Regions from separate parts of the Homo sapiens genome. Here region 1 is linked to region 2. Evidence: fine-mapped expression QTL. Tissue or cell type: whole blood. Region 2 holds a variant in brackets; the other region holds the start of a gene. All regions are shown on one strand. Distances are between the middles of the regions. Region 1 holds the start of PADI2 (peptidyl arginine deiminase 2). Region 2 overlaps PADI2 (peptidyl arginine deiminase 2).

What was found. PIP is the estimated chance that this variant, and not a neighbour inherited with it, causes the effect.
Region 1: PADI2 starts here. The variant in region 2 is fine-mapped to the expression of PADI2 in whole blood (INTERVAL, PIP above 0.99). The same link has a PIP of 0.9 or more in blood mononuclear cells.

Annotation. Positions count from the first base shown.
Region 1 is chr1:17,116,241-17,124,563 of GRCh38, reverse strand. It overlaps PADI2 (peptidyl arginine deiminase 2), which reads left to right and starts at 5,113. Exons shown (of 16, transcript NM_007365.3): 1 at 5,113-5,284. The coding sequence starts at 5,193. RefSeq lists silencers at 2,388-2,571, 5,094-5,303 and an enhancer at 3,988-4,522.
Region 2 is chr1:17,093,576-17,101,898 of GRCh38, reverse strand. It overlaps PADI2 (peptidyl arginine deiminase 2), which reads left to right. Exons shown (of 16, transcript NM_007365.3): 4 at 5,929-5,990; 5 at 8,215-8,323. Among named protein-coding and RNA genes, the nearest start is that of PADI2, 22 kb to the left of the region's middle. The variant C/T (reference allele first, on the strand shown) is at 3,317.

The DNA.
Region 1 (8,323 bases), 23 kb before region 2:
GGTGAATTGTAAAATTGTTTCCTTATGTATTACAATGTGATGATAGAAATAAAGTGCACAAGAAATGTAATGCGCTTGAATCATCCCGAAACCATCCCCACCCCCATCCATGGAAAGCCTGTCTTCCACAAAACAGGTCCCTGGTGCCAAAAAGGTTGGGGACCACTGTTTTACACCTACAGCATGTGTCAGTTCAGATTAGCCACATAAACCTTGTCTGGCAGTGGCTACATGTTGGAAAGCATGGGTCTAGGACCTCCCAGGCTTACTCTGGCCCCCTGGCAGCCCCTCAGACAACTGGCTTATTACATCTTCTCCAGAATTCACCTTTCTAGCTTTGCTTCACTGACTAAGGGTAGAACCCTGGCCCGGACAAGTCATCTTACCCTTGGATGTATAAAATAAGGGTAAGAAAAATACTTACTTCTGGGGTTGTAGCAAGGATTCAATGGGATAACATACACACAGTGCTTAGCGCAGGTGCCTGGCAGGGAATAAATGCTCCATAAATGGTGACCTAATGAATGAAAGCCTTAGCCCATCTTTCAGCATGGTGATGGTTAATTTTCTGTGTCGATTTGGCCAGGCTATGGCACCCCATCATCCAGTCAAACATCAGTCTGGATGTTGCTGTGAAGATATTTTTCAGATGTGATCAACGTTTAAATCAGTAGACTTTGAGTAAAGTAGATTGCACTCCAAAATGTGGGTGGGCCTCATCCAATCAGTTGAAGGCCTTAACAACAAAGACTGAGGTTTCCCAAAGAGGAGGCAATTCAGCCTCCAGAATGCAACATAGAAACCGTGCTGTTTCCAACCTGTAGATTTCAGACTCAAGACCGCAACATCAATTCTTCTCCCATTTCTGACTGGCCAGCTCTACAAATTTCAGGCTTGTCAGCCCCCACAACCATGTGAGCCAATTTCTTAAAATAAATCTCTCTCTCTGCATATATAAATGTACCCCCGAGTGGGGTACAGCCACAGCAGCACGCAGAAGAGACATGACTTCCTCATTCTGAACTCACGCAGTATTAGAACAATGGAGCACCCCAGCCCTTCCCCGCCTCTGAGCACGATGTCTCTCAGGACCGAGAGCTGAGGCAGAGGCTGAATCAACGCCCCCATCCCAGAGACTCTTCTCAAGGGAGTGAGACCAAAGGGTGGGCTTTGCCAGGGGAAAGGGAATGTGACGGGGCCAGGCAGGGCCAGGGTTATGGGGATCTGCTCTTGAGGGTATGACTGCAGGTCCCCATGGTGCAGAGTCAGGGGTTGGGGCGATCCCTGGCCACAGAAGGATTGCTTTGGGGATCCATGGCCCAGACCCCGACCTCTTCCTTTCTCTGGTCTCCTGCCAGAATTCCTGTCAAATTTAGCTGCCTACAGCAGCCAGAGTGATTTTCCTAAAGTGTACATCGTGCCGTTGACACCTTCCAAAGTCCTTCCCAGGCTTCCCCCATGACCCCATAAAGATAAAGCCCCAAAGCCTTTTCCACGACTTACAATGCTCTGTGTGACCTGGCCACAGCCAGCCCAGCCTCTCACATTGTGGAAGCTTTGAAGTATGTTATCAAACAGCATGTAGTCAGAAGCCCATGTTTACAAAAACTTAAAATAACTATATACGCATAGGAAATAACTACCGTCTACTGGAACTTGGGTCTGTGCCAGGCCACGATGTGCAGTACCTTACTGGATATCATCTTGTTATTCCTTGTTCCTTATAACAATTCCTAGTATCTCCTTTATAGAAGAAGAAACTGAGGCCCAGAGAGGCCCCCAGCTAGTGAGGGGCAGAGCCAGACTTGACCCCAGGTCCACCAAGACCAAAGTCCATGCTCTTCACTGCAGGCTGGTTGGTGCCTCTGTGCAGATGGAAGATAATAATAGCTCTCACCTCACAGGGCTGTCGTGAGGATTAAACAGGCTGAGATGTGTGTGTGAATGGGCTCTGAACAGCTCCTGGCATGGCGCAAGGGCTCAGGAAGTGTGCTGCCCCACAGCAGCCTGTGGGCAGCCCGGCCAGATCATACTCATAGATTCAGACTGATCTCTGGTACTAGGGTCATGGGTGATCATATTTTTTTTAACTTTTCCACAATGACCAGGTAATACTTGTGCATTTTTTTCTTTCTTTTTAAATTATTGTATGTATAGTGCTCTCAGTAAGCTGTCTGTTTCCTCAAAGCAGGCTTGTCGAAGTTTGAGTGGCCTCCCTGGTTCCCCCAAGGCCTGGCCCGGAGACCCCACACCCAGTGGAGGAACCTAACAGAAAACAGCTCAGAAGAGCCCCTCTTAGCCCAGGCACCCTGCCCACAGGCTTGGCAGGGGCGCTTGCTGGAGGGGTGGGTGCGGGTCTGTGCCAGGAACTGGCCTAAGCTAAGTCCCCAAAAGACACCGTGAGATGCTTTGTGGCTCTTCCGGATCCCAGGGGAGAGGTGGGAGCAGCCGTGATGCATGCGACCTCCGGCCCTGAATCCACCAACAGCTGTGACTACTTCAGCTATTTTAAACCTCTGGGCACCAGGAAACTCCTGTCTCATCAACCAGGCTCTGGGCCCAACATGATGGCCTGAGCCCGGGCAGGAGTCCTGAGTGTGGGTGGCCAGGTCTGAATTGGGTTTTTAAGGGGAGGGGGCTTCATTTCTTGAGCCTTGTGCCAGGCTCTGTGCTAGTATTTTCTGCACCTTGTTGTCTCGTTTAATACCGTCCTTACACCGTGCTGAGGGATCAGTTACTTCACAGAGGCAGAAAATGGGGCTCCGAATGGCAGGGTACCTGGCCCAAGGCGGCACAAAAGCAGAGCTGGGCCTAGAACTGCGACTTCCTTATCTACAAAGCATGGACAGCATTCTGCCCCTGCCCTCACTCGGCCTTGCCCCCTGCCTCCACCCCAGTGGCCCTGCAAGCTCCTCCCTCTGCCACTCTTAGGAGCTCTGCAACCCAGAGTCAATTCCCCCACCTCCTCACAGCTCACTTTCTTCATCTGTAAAGTGGCGGAGTTACTGGGAGGGTTCAGTGATCTAACTCTAATACATGAAAAGAGCCGCTTGGAACAGTGCCTGACCCACAGAAAGAAAGCAGTAAGTGCCCGCTCTTACTCCAGCTCCCCTGGGTATTGCGGTCTGATGTTATCACTATCTTGCCCAGTGTCCTGTTATGAGCTGCCCGGGGTCTCCGTCAGTGGGGGGTACAGTGTCCTCCCCCACTCTGGCCCCAGTCTCCCCATGAGTCAAATGAAAGTTAGAGCCCCAGGAAGGTGAGAACCCTGGTGGGTGCCCGTTATCTGTCACACAGTAAGGGCTCCAAAGTCACTCGTGGCAGAGGGGTGCCCAGACACGAGCTCACCTCTGGGGGCGCCTCGAAGTCTCTCCAAGCTACACAAGTTTTGTCCCAGTTTGGCAGGTGGCCACCCGAGAGATTCCTCCTGATTGGAGGATGTGCTCAGCCGGGTGCCTGGAGTTCATCAGAAGTTACTGGCCTCGGCCGGGCGCTGTGGCTCACGCCTGTAATCCTAGCACTTTGGGAGGCCGAGGCAGGTAGATCACCTGAGATCAGGAGTTCAAAACCAGCCTGGCCAACATGGAGAAACCCCGTCTCTACTAAAAATACAAAATTAGCTGGGTGTGGTGGTGCCTGCCTGTAATCCCAGCTACTTGGGAGGCTGAGGCAGGAGAATCAATTAAACCTGGGAGGCGGAGGTTGCAATGAGCTGAGATGGCGCCATTGTACTCCAGCCTGGGTAACAAGAGGAAAACTCTGTCTCAAAAAAAAAAAAAAAAAACAGTTACTGGCCTCTCCCTGGGTCTGTGAGCTGTGCCTTTGGGGGACAAATGACCTCCTGGCTAAAACTCGGGCCTTCCCTCTTCCCCACTCACATTCCTCCCAAATCCCTGCCACTCAGAAGCAGCTGGGCTCTTCACCACCTCCTAATTTGGGCCGCCTCAGGGAGAAGGTTGGAGTCCAAGGGCTGGGTATATCAGCACTGGGCACTTGTGGGCCTCACCCCTCTTGTCTGGGGGCACCCGTTCCTGGAGCTCCATCTTCCATCAGCTCTAACTCCTTCCCAAACACACATCCCCTCCGCCCCACTCCTTCCCTCCCACGGCCTCTGCCCACCCCCCCTCAGTTTCTGTCCTCACCTACCAAAGACCACTTCCTCACACAGGGCTGATGTATGTGTCTGAACAGCACTCCCACTGGGTCCCAGGGGAAGGGCTGGGACATGGGAGGGGCTGGCCGAGGCCCACACTGATTGTCATCCTACATCTCAGCCTCTGTGAGACACACGATGACCTCTGGGTGGCACCCCCCTTCCCTTGGTGGCCCAGGCCAGAACCGGGGCCCTAATCCTTACCCCTCTCCTCTCCCTCCACCCACACATCCTATCAGTCACCAGGTGCCACCAAAATCCCAGTCCCTAAGCAGTGGCCGGGTCAGTCCCCACCTCTCCAGCTCTGGCCACAGCCAGGGGCTTCCTTGCCCCTCCCCAGCCCAGAATGACCCATTTCACGAGCACACCCGACCACGGCTCGCGGAGACAACCACTCCAGGCTCCCATCTCCCACCCTCCAATGCCTTGGCTTGGCGTCCTGGTCTCCCTCAGCTGCCGGGTTCCCCATCCCCACCGCTTCCCGTTTTCTCTATGGTGAGGTTCATCTGACTGTTGGGGGATGGGGGTACCGGGCTGCACCCGGCTTTGCACAGGCAGCTCCCTCTCCTCGCCTTTAATTTGCAAACGCCTCCTTTAAGAAGGTTCCAGGATCGTCTTCTCTGGGAAGGCTTCCTGGCCCCCAGGCTGGGTTAGGGCACCCTCTTTGTGTTCCCACATTTGCATTTTCAGCCCCACTGGGCTGGGGCGTCCGGAGGGGAGCTAGGGCCCTCCAACACCTGGGCGCCCACCGAAGGTTTGTCGAATGAAAGAATGACAATCCAACCATGGAAAGCACAAAACTGGTCCCTGATGACTTCGCCACGACCTCAGCGGGGCGGGACGAGTTAGGGGCGGGACCACGCTTGACGGACAGGCCCGCAGCCCACTGCGAGAGGACTGGGGCGGGCCGCCCCGCCCACCGGCCGCTGGATAAGGCTGCGCGCGGGGCCGTGGGGCGCAGGCTGCTGGAGAAGGCGCACCTGCTGCAGGTGCTCCCGGCCGCCCCGGACCAGCGAGCGCGGGCACTGCGGCGGGGAGGATGCTGCGCGAGCGGACCGTGCGGCTGCAGTACGGGAGCCGCGTGGAGGCGGTGTACGTGCTGGGCACCTACCTCTGGACCGATGTCTACAGGTGAGCCGGCCCACCGTGATGCCCGGGCCGAGATCTCGAGCCCAGAAATCCTGAGACGCGCTCAGACTCGGGGACGTGGACAGCCTTTGTCCAGCCCGAGTTGTCCCTCATCCCGAGCCCCCGAGCCCAGAAATCCTAAGAATCTCATCCAGAAACCTGACAACCCCCGAACCTTGTGTCCACCTTCCAGAAACCCTGAGACTCTCCCAGACCCCCTAACACAGCCTCAGCCCCAGCTCCCTCACAGACCCTCCCTTTCACCCGTAACCCTCCGTCTGGCCCTCTCCAGTTCTCCTCCCGGGGGACCTCACACCCCTTCAGCTTCCCTGCCGTCCTCTCCCCTTTCACTTCCCCTCCGCACCTCACTTCCCCTCGGACCCACCTCAACCCAGCCCCTCTCCTGCTTCCCACTCCCAGTTCAGCGGAGCTTCCGCGGAGACTTGCCGGGGACTGGGGCAGGACCCGAAGGGAGCTGCCCTGAGGCTGAATCCGGCCCTGGAGGTTACTCAGGCTCCGATTTCGCCCTGTGGGGGCTGCTGGTGGTTGCTTGTCCCCAGGCACTGGCCCTGAGCTCCGTGTCCCCAGATACCTTCCCCTGACTTCATTCTGAGACCACAGAGGGACAATATTCTACCCAGCTGACGACGGGGACTTGGGGTGTATAGCGGGGTACTTTGTTGGAAAAGGATCCTGATTCAGAGTTCTGCTCCCTCCCCTTCTCTCTGTCCAAGAACTTGGTAGAGTGCGGGATGTCCGAGACAGCTGAAGGTAGGGTAGGGCCCTACCACTCCCCCCGCAATCCCAGAAAGCAGCCAAGTCCAATGATCTGTCTCCCTGAGTAATGGGACGGGGCCTTGGAAAGGTGTGGCTGGTGTGAATGAAAGGGTGGGGTTATGCTGGGGTTTGATCTGCCCCCTCTATTCCAAGCATTTAAAACCTCCCCATTGCTAGGGTTGGAGGGGTCAGTGCTGGGGGCAGGGAGCATGCAGGACTCTGAGGTGGGACCCTGTGCTGACACCGGATGAGTCCCCTATCCTCTCTGCCTCAAGCTGAACTCACACGGAGGCACCATCGTGGTTTATGGCTCTCAAATCATCCTGACACCTGGAGCACCCTGCCTCTCCCAGGCCCCCACCAACCCATCATGTGTCTCCCCACACAGCCCTGGCAGCCCTCCCACCTGCCCAACCAGTCTCCTGCCACCGCTGCAGAGGCACTGGCCACGCTGATACCAACAAGCCCCAGGACTAGGGACCCACTCCATGCCTCTGTCCCTGGCCTCAACCTCTGCCTTCCCCTGGGCCTGGGCTTCAGTTGTCCCCCATGTAAACCTCAGAGGTGGACTGGGTGGTCTCTGAGAACAAGAACACAGCAGTGGAGGGTGGTCCAGGCTCTGGTGGGGTGCAAGAGCTCCCCTGCCTTCCCCACCCCCAGCCCTGAACTGGGCACCGCTAGGGAGTGGGCGCGGAGCCAGAGTGCTCAGGTCTCTAAGCCTCAGCTGTCACCATACCCACCTGTTTATTTGCTGGGGCATGGTTGGTGCCGCCTGAAAAGCTGGCATGATCCTCCCAGTCGGGGGTGGGGAGCAAAGGAGGGTTCCTGCTCAGGCGCCCTGCTATCGCTCTATCCTGGCAAAGAGAGGCCCAGCTGGGGTAGGGGCACAGAGTGGGGCAGATATGGACTCAGCCTCCCTCTAGCAGGGGGCAGCAGTGTGACGATTCCCCTTGTCCTGTCTCAACGACCACAAAGACCCTAACCCCCACCGGCACTTAAGGTTCTCCACCACCACAGAGAGGGGCAGTGCGCTCTAGACCAGTACTGTCCAGAAAAGTCCAGTTTGAACCACAACAAAACCACAATTGCATTTTAAATCTTCTAGTAGTCCACACTTTTTTAAAGTTAAAACAACAGGCATAATTTTAATAATATATTTTGTTTAACCCAATATTTTAGAATATTATCATTTCAACATGCAATCAATATAAAAATTATTAAGGAAATGGTTTACCTTCCTTTTTTCATGCTAAGTCTTTGTAATCCAGTGCACATTTTACACTTCAGCACATCTCAGCGTAGATTGAGTGCATCTCAGGTGCTCACTGGCCACCGTGAGCCAGTGACACCGGGACAGAACAGGTCTAGTGCAGAGTTTCTCAATCTCGCACTATTGCATTTTGGGCTCGATATTTCTTTGTTGTAGCGGGATGTTTAGTGGCATCCCTGACCTCTGTCCCCTAGATGCCAGTAGCAACCCCCAAATTGTGACAACCAAAAATGTTGCCAGACAGTGCCAGCAGTCCCCTGGCAGGGGGCAAAATCACAGCCAGCTGAGACTCACTGGTCCAGTGGAAGGAAGCCTCTTCCAGGACTAAGGAGCTTGAGTTGTTACTGCTATTGTGACTCGAGTTACCTGTAGTAATGAGAGCAACTGCCAGTATTGATAACAGGAGGAGGTATTAGTGGGCACTTAGGAACTGAACCCACCACCTCCTTTCTTCCTCACCATAGACCCTGGAGGGTTCATTGATCATCCCATTTTACAGATGAGGAAGGTAAGGCTCAGAGAGATGAAGCCATTTGTCCAGAGTCACACAGGACTCAGGTCCAGGTCTGTTTGACTCAGAACTCATGCTCTTATACCCCACTCTGTCCTATGTGACCCTAAAACCAGCGGGTTGAACTGGACGGCCCTCTCAGCCTGTGTCTCTTCCACCCTGGCCACGAGCCCACTGTCCCCAGAGACTTCACCAACTCCCATTTGGCCCTCCACTCTTCCCTGAGTCCTTTGCTGCCCGGACACAGGTCCTGGCTCAAGACCCCAAGTGATGCCCCCAGAGCCTCCAAGTAGACCCCAAGGAACAAGGCCCGGGGGTGCTGGGCCCAGTTAATTACGGAGTGGCATCCTGACCCTCACTCCTTCTGAGTCGCAAAGGTGAGCGAAACGGCCTCAGCACCCACTCCCTTTCCCAAGGGCTCTGGACTCCCTTTCCTGTGATGCTGGCACACAGGATCCCCTCCAGACACATAGCAGGGGCCTCC
Region 2 (8,323 bases):
AGGATAGATATTATTATTATCATCCTCATTTTATAGATGAGAAAATCAAGGCTCAGAAAAGGTAAAACAAATACTTGCCTGCAGCTACATCTCCAGAAAATGGTTGGTGAGATGCCAATCATTCCAGTTATCCCACATTCTCAGGGGGGGTCTCAGAATCTCCCCAAGATACAACTAACTCCCGAGCCAGCCCCTTCCTCTCTAGCCCTGTGCTCTCAGCTGCTTAAACAGGCTTAGCAGCAGGGCCCTTCTCATTCTTGGCTAATTCCCAAATGGGCTTGGTTGCTGGTCCCCCTGTCCCTCTTTCTGTCCCAAGGAGGTGCCCAGCCCTGGGGTAGGGAACCTCGGGATGACCTTGGTGAGGGTGGCAGATGATCAACAAAGACTCCTGGGTTGTACTGAGCCCTGGCACGTGTGTGAACCTTGCATGCACACAGCATCCAGGCAGTCTCAGATGACAGTCCCTGAGGAAACCTAATCCCACCAAGATAGGGACACCTGAGGACGGGGGCAGGAAGGGCAGGGGCCTGACACCTGTCAAATGAGGATGATCCCAGAAGGCTGACTGCACCATTAACAAGACTTCCACCAAAGCAAGACAGACTTAGGATAGATGGCAAAATAAGCGTCTATAAGGAGGCAGGACTGGACTTTTCCTCCTCACTAGGAGATGACAAAGCTGTGCTTAGAGGAAGCCCGCTCAGAGTTGGCGGCATGGCTGAGTCCCAAAAGATGCCACATGTGCCCACGACAAGTGACCAAGTTCATCCTTCCGAGGTCTGTTAATAATTATTTATTTAACTGCCACAAGTTCCAGATATTTAGATTCCATGGGCCAATCAAATGTCCCCTGCCCCCACCCCCCAAAAAATGAGAACACTAACAACTTTGATGCTTGGCAAAAAAAAGAAAAAAAAATACATCAATAAAACAATTTGTGGCCAGGCGCGGTGTCTCACGCCTGTAATCCCAACACTTTGGGAGGCCAAGGTGGGCAGATCATGAGGTCAGGAGTTTGAGACCAGCCTGGCCAATGTGGCGAAACCACATCTCTACTAAAAATACAAAAATTAACTGGGCGTGGTGGCACGCACCTGTAGTCCCAGCTACTCAGGAGGCTGAGGCAGGAGAATTGCTTGAACCCAAGAGGTGGAGGTTGCAGTGAGCCAAGATGGTGCCACTGCCCTCCAGCCTGGGCGACAGAGCGAGACTTTGTCTCAAAAAAAAAAAAAAAAAAATTTGCTATCAACTATCACTATCATTTTAACTCTTAAAAAATAGGCAAGGCATAATCTCAGAATAAAAGACAGTCATGGCCGGGCACAGTGGCTCACGCCTGTAATCCCAGCACTTTGGGAGGCCGAGGTGGGCGGATCACCTGAGGTCAGGAGTTCAAGACCAGCCTGGCCAACATGGTGAAACCCTGTCTCTACTAAAAATATAAAAACTAGCCGGGCATGGTGGTGGACGCCTGTAATCCCAGCTACTCAGGAGGCTGAGGCAGGAGAATTGCTTGAAACCAGGAGACAGAGGTTGCAGTGAGCTGACACAGTGCCACTGCACTCCAGCCTCGGCGACAGAATGAGACTCTGTCTCAAAAATAACACAAAACAAAACAAAAAACAGAATAAGAGACAGTCATTCAATTGCAAAAAGAAACTAACACCATTGAACTTCTGTTTCCTGTTCCAACAGAGACCCTGGTGAAAATCTGGTTTCCCTTGGGGACCACTGTTCTCTCTGTCCCTTCTAGGTTTTCTCTTTTCTCGAGCATCTGCCCCAGGAGCCCTTGAGCCCGTCATCCTGAGTAATCAATCACTCAGGGGCAGCGCCTCAGAGGCAAGCCCCCCCCCAACCCCAATATCTTGAGAGGCTGGGACTGTCCCCTGGGCACAAAAATGTATCTGAATCTCTCTCACCCTGGTCCTATCCTGAGTCCACATTGAGCAGAAAGAGCCTTGGCTTCTGGGTAGACAGAAGTAAGCCTAAGATCTTTCTCTGTCCCCTCCAGCCAGCTTGTGACAAGTCACATCATCCCCCTGAGCCTTGGCTTCCTCATCTATAAAATGCGCTTCACAGAGCAGCCTTGCATGGTGTTTACAAGGATTCAGTGGGATGTTGTGTGCGAAGGGCCCGGCACAGAGTGGGTGCTTAGTCAATGCTCCGCCTGCTTTTCTCTCTTGCTCTTGAGGTGGCCGCATTTTCTCTCTGCCTGGGTGAAGTTAAAGAAATGTATGGTCTCTCCTTCTTCCTTCTGGGATTTGGGAGCAAATTCATGATTCCTTTGGCCAGATCAGGCTCTGGGTCTTTGTCCCAATCCCGCCAAGGACTTGCTGTGTGACCTTAACAAGTAACCACCCCCACTAGGACTCACTTTTTACAAACTATAAAATAAGGGGTTTGAGCTAATTAATCCCTAAGGACCTTCAAGACCCTGGTTAGGGTTGATTTGCAAAGACTTCCATTTTTTGGGAGGGATGGGGGAGAGCAAGAGGTGAGGTGTGGGGAGGGAGGAAGAATCCCACCCTATTTGAGGTCCTGGCAGTGGAAGGAGTACACATATGCGGGCCCCAGAAAATTTTAACATCAACCTAAGGGGCTTGATCCTATGCCTTCTCCCCAGAGGCTGGGATACTTGCCCTGATTGGCTGTGGGGGAGGGTGTCCTTCCTTCCCATAACATCTCAAGCTGCTTAGTAAGGCAAGAAGGCCAGGCACCCTGCCACTCTCTGGCGACCCTCCAAAATGCTTGTGCCTCTCGGTCAGAGCTGAGGCTTCAGTGTCTTCATTCTCAGGGCAGACTGCCTTGAACCCAATCCTAGGGACATTTCCCGTCAATCTGCCCCACACCCAGGAGCCACCTGACGCCTTGGGGCTATTCTGGGGAACTGAGGTGGGATCCAGAGCCTCTGGGAAATGTCGTCTGGAGCCTGGAGGCCCTGAAGCAGAGCTCCTCTCCCTCCTCCCCCTCGGGAAGGCAGAGCCATCCCAAGAGGCAATGCTCTGGGCAGGTCACACCAGCCCTGTTCTCTGCCCCTACCCGCAGCATCCCACTGGAATCTAGTTAAATCAGACATTGGGGGAAGCCTTGCAGGGGCGAAGTCCCATGGGCATGACTACAGGGTGGGCGGTCTCTGAGGGTGAAGGGGCCAGAAGGTCATTTCAGTGGATTATGGGGACAGGTCATGGGTCATCAGAGAGGAGTTATGAAGCCCTGTGAGAGGCTGGGAGGACGATAAGGGAGCCACACTGTGAAATGCCCACATTTCGTAACAGGAAGGTAACGAAACCTGTCTGAATTCAGTAAATCAGGAAAT[C/T]GCAATAAGCATGAGAGAGGTTGCCTTAGGCAGCTGAGAAGAAGGGCTGGACAAGGAACTGCTGTCTTTCTTTAGAAACAGTGTGTTACTATTTTATTTGATTTTGTTTGTACTATGTCCAAATATTACATGAATAAAATGTTTCCATTTAAGAATTCATAATGAAATGAAGCAGTATAGACTGCACCATAATTTCTCTCCTAGCCCACGGCCCCACTGCTTTAATGGACTCGCCACAAGGAGTCCCAATGTAATGTCACCTTACGGCCTAGAGACGAAGGCCGCAGGGCTACCAAGGTGGGGAAATGGGCACTTCCTCTGGGAATGACCTTCAAGGGAGCAAGTCTTGTGTCTTTGACTTTGGGCTGGGCTTTTGGAAACAGCTTGCAGGGAGGTCAGCCTGGGTTCATTGCAGGGAACAGCAGAGAGCAGGCAGCCGGAGTCCGAGGCCCTGCTGAGAGCCTGGCTCTGCGTTCTGGGAACTTCGGTGGTCACTTCCCTGCTGCGGGCCTGGGTTTCCTCATCTGTATCGTTAGGGGGTGGGGGTGGTCACGCCTCCCCTGGAGTGGCCGAGAGAACACACCTTGGAAAACGCTGTGCAGCTGCAGAGCAGGATGCCCGCAGGGGAGAAATTTTTACCTTGAAAAGGACAGAGTGGCTCCCTAAAGAGGCTGGACCTGCGGCTCCTTCCGAGGGAGGAGTTTCAGGAAGCCAGCTCCCTGAAAGGCAGCATTCAGTGGACGTGACCGGCTGGAAAGTTCACAAAGGTCCAGGAACCAAAACCAGTATTATTCCTGCCCCTGCACCCCAGGCTCTTAGCCCCTGGTGGTACCGCCTTCCCTTCTTTCCCCTGGGGTCCTTATCCTGCACCAGCCTCCCAGATTACCAGCCCGATTTGCTGACAAGTGGCTTCTCTGAACCTGGGTTTGCTGCCCTGTGAAACGAGAGCAATGCTATTCATCTCATGGGACTGTGGACGCCTTGAGAGCAGGTGCTGTGCCTCCATTGCCCGTTGCCTGGTACAGCTCCCGGAGCAGTAGCTCCTCAGCAGTGAAATGTGGAGTGAATGCGATCGGAGGGAGGAGGTTACAAATTATGCCTTACAGCACCTAACTCACCGCACAGCTGCAGAGGCTGGGACACACAAGACTGCCTCTCTCAAGGGCCAGGCGCCCTTGCAGCCTCCTTCTAGACTGGAAAAGTCACATGCAGGTCTAGGGTATGCAGGCTATAGGCAAAGGGAGGACCTGAATGTGATCTCTGGACTCTGGGCTTGGTTGGCCCAGAGAAGGGTGACATCAGTGCACTTCGTGTGCCAGGACCCTCCTTTCCATGCCCTCCAGGCAGAGGGTGTGCCTGCCACGGGGACTAACCAGGAATGCATTCATTACCACCCAGCGCCCACCAGGTCCAAGTCATGCTCAGCGTGAGATGAGCCCACTCGGGCAGCTCTGGGGACCTGGAACGGGCACATGTCATGTGTGTGACACTCCCAACACCTTCCCAACCACATCCCTACTCGACCTCATCCGTCTCCAACTCAAGGCAATTTCGCCTCCCAAGGGACATTTGACAATATCTGGAGACATTTTTGGCTGTCACGACTGGGAGGGATGTTACTGGCATCTGGTAGGTAGAAGCCAGGAGTGCTGTTAAACATCCTACAATGCACAGGCTGCCCCCACACAAAGAGTTATTTGGCTCAAAAATGTCAGTAGTGCCTTCCATTGCAGCTAATGCATCTGCTGTAACCAGGAAGGGCCCCATGTTACAAGTGAGGAAACTGGGGCTCAGAGAGGTCCTCTAACCTGCCCAAAGTCACACAGCTTATAAGCAGAGAACCAGGGTCTAAACCCCACCTTGTCTGATACTAAACCTTTTCACTTCCCTACAGTCTCCACAAAGCCTGTCTCCATGGCAGGCCTAGGGATGCTGAGGGTCCCTTCACCAAGAGAAGGGATAAGTGGGGGCCTGGCCCTGGATCCTCCATCTAGACTCACAGGTGACCTCAGACCAAGAGGGGTTAGAGACAGCTTCCCACCCACAGTAAAACCCTCAGTCCTTGAAGGTGGGATCTAGCCCACTGGAAGTTCTGGGAGAGAAAGAGACACGCACACCCAGGTGCACATGTGCACACCTATGCGCATGCCCGGGTAGACTGAGAAAGGCAGTTTGGGAATGCTATCCCTGTTAAGTTTTCAGAATATGAACTATGAATCAGACCAACCGCACTGTGTACCCCAGTTCTGCTAGCGTCCCTATGTGATCTTGGGCATGCGACTTCACCTCTGAACTGAGGCATCCAGATCTGTGCAGCGAGGATCATTCCCCAACCCCCAGCCAGAACAATGAAGTGGTAGGAGGTCCCAGACCTCCCCGATGGCAGCTCTTGCAGCCGTAAGCTACGAGGTCCACACGGTGTCTGCTGACGGTCTCCAGTGGGTAGTGGGATGTTGAGGCAGGGGGTTGCATAAGATGACTTCAGCGAGGTCCTCTCTTTCCCGTGACCAAATGAATGGCTGAGACGCACCCAAATCCCACAGGTCTTCCTCTTGCCCCTGCCCTGCCCTGCCTGGCAGGCTCAGCAACTCACCCATGTCTCTTCTCCCCAGAGATCTCCCTGGATGTGGACGCAGACCGGGATGGTGTGGTGGAGAAGAACAACCCAAAGAAGGTACCTAGCTTTCAGGGCAGGCACCACCCTGAACCCAGGGCTTCCGAGGGCACAGCCCCAGATCCCGCAGGCAATTCCCATTTCACAGCTCAGGAGACTAAAGCCCAAGACAGGCTCCCAGACACACAGCATACCAATGATGGAACCCACAGAGGAGCTCAGGCATCTCCTAGAGACGGCAACAGAGCAGGCTCCTGAGTCTCAGTTTCTCCATCCCATGATGGGGACGCCCAATTCATGGAACTGCTGGGAAGGATAAATGTGCCCGCTACAGAGGAAGCACTGTGAAGGCATTTGCTCTTATTATTTTGCCTGTTCTTTTAAGACTAGGGAGGTGGGGGAGACAGACCCTCAGGACAGAGGGTCGCATTCATCATTCTCAGTTCCAGGCGTGGTATTATCTCTGCTGGTGCATGCACGGCCCCTCTCCTCTTTCTATTTATTCTTGCATTCATTCACCATTCATTCATTTGTTCCCTCGTTCATTTACTTATTTTCTTTTATCTTGCATTCCCCACTCCCATTCTGCTCCCCCACAGAGGACCATTTTGCTGGGTTTAATGTGTCTCTTTCTGCTCTGGTGACTCTCAGGAGGCATGTGGTGTGGTTGGTGTGCATGTATTTTTAATTTGTGCAGACGGCATGGTGTTCTCCATCACATTCTGTTTTGTACTTTTCCCTCAACCTAGTTTTTAGGCTCCATCAGTCTTGCTCTGTGTACATTCAGGCTGTTGCTTCTAACTGCTTTCCATTTTCTGCCCTTCTGTATTATCTCAATTTTTGCCATGGGCATATGTGACTTTTATAATAACACTCTGAAGCCTAGAGTAAAGTATACATAGAGGGGTACTTACGAAGTAAAATAAACACAGCCTGATGAGAAGCCTGGGTCCTAGCAGCCTGCTACCCTGACTCTCTGCAGGTCAGGAGAGGGTTCTCAGCCATGTGGGGAAGTCCCTTCTTCTAGGATCGTGAGCAAGGCTTGCCTGAGACCAGGGCCAGCCCTGCACACTCATTCTCTGAGTCTATGGCCAAGCCATATGAGAATGAACTCCACAGAGGCCTCTGAAACCCAGCAGCCCCAGGGCGACAGCTTCCAACCTCCCCCAAGGGGCTGGGCAGTCTTGGGAAAGTCACACGATCCCCATGAGCCTGAACTTGGCCAGAATTTTTAAATCTGGGCCGGTGAAGTTTTCACATTTTCTTCACTCATCCCATAAATATTTGCTGAGCATCTTTTATGTTCCAGGAGCGGGTCAGGCCCAGGGGACACAGAAAGAACAAGAGAAACACAGCCCTGGCCTTAAGGAGCCCATGGTCCACATTAAATATGGAGTGTTTCGGATAGCTGTGTCATCACAGTTGTCCTAAGTCCTCCCAAAAAGGATGTGTACAGGGCCAGGTGTGGACCCGGGGAAGCTGCTCTGTCCTAGAGAATCAGAAAGGCCTCCAGGAAGAAGAGACAGTCATGCTGTAACCGAGGAAGGGTAGAGTGGGCCAGGTGGAAAGGGGCAGGACAGGAGCAGAGGGACTGGCATAGGCAAAGGCCTGGGAGCTTGAGTCTTTTGGGAGCAGAAAGGCGCCGGGATGGGTGGGGCAGAGTGAGCGAGGGGCAAGGCGGAGGAGATGAGACAGAGAGGAAGGCAAGTTTCACCAGGCCTTCCAAGCCACAGCAAGGAATCAGGGCTTCATGCCAACTCAACTGGGAGCCCCTGACCTGGCTTAAAGCAGGGAAGCAACACAATCTGGCCCGAGTTTGTTCTAGTAGTGCTATGGCTGCAGTGTAGAAAGTGGAGCACCATGCAGGTCCCATTCGGAGCACTAGGAGCGTGTCTGGAAACAGCTGGGTGGCATCCATCCAGGCGTCTCCTCCTGAGCTCCCCTAGGGACCTAGGGACCCATGGTAGAATGTCTGTCTGCTCATTTCTCTGGCCAGCCTCCACCTCCCTGCCTCCACCCACACCAGACACCAGCTGCACCAGACAGGAGGCCCATAAATGCCTCAGTCAGCCTTCCTGTCTCTGTGCCTCTATTGAACTTGCCTTTGATGCCCACATTCATCCTCTGTGGACATCAGTCTTGAGATTCACATTTGCCAGGTCACAGCTGCCCCAGTGGGTGGCGGCTACTCTTTACCCTCATCCTGGGGCTATCTCTCCAGTGTCCCATGGGGTCTATACAAGCATAGAGAAGAGGGCACTGACCTTTCTTCCTGCCACTGTAGGCATCCTGGACCTGGGGCCCCGAGGGCCAGGGGGCCATCCTGCTGGTGAACTGTGACCGAGAGACACCCTGGTTGCCCAAGGAGGACTGCCGTGATGAGAAGGTCTACA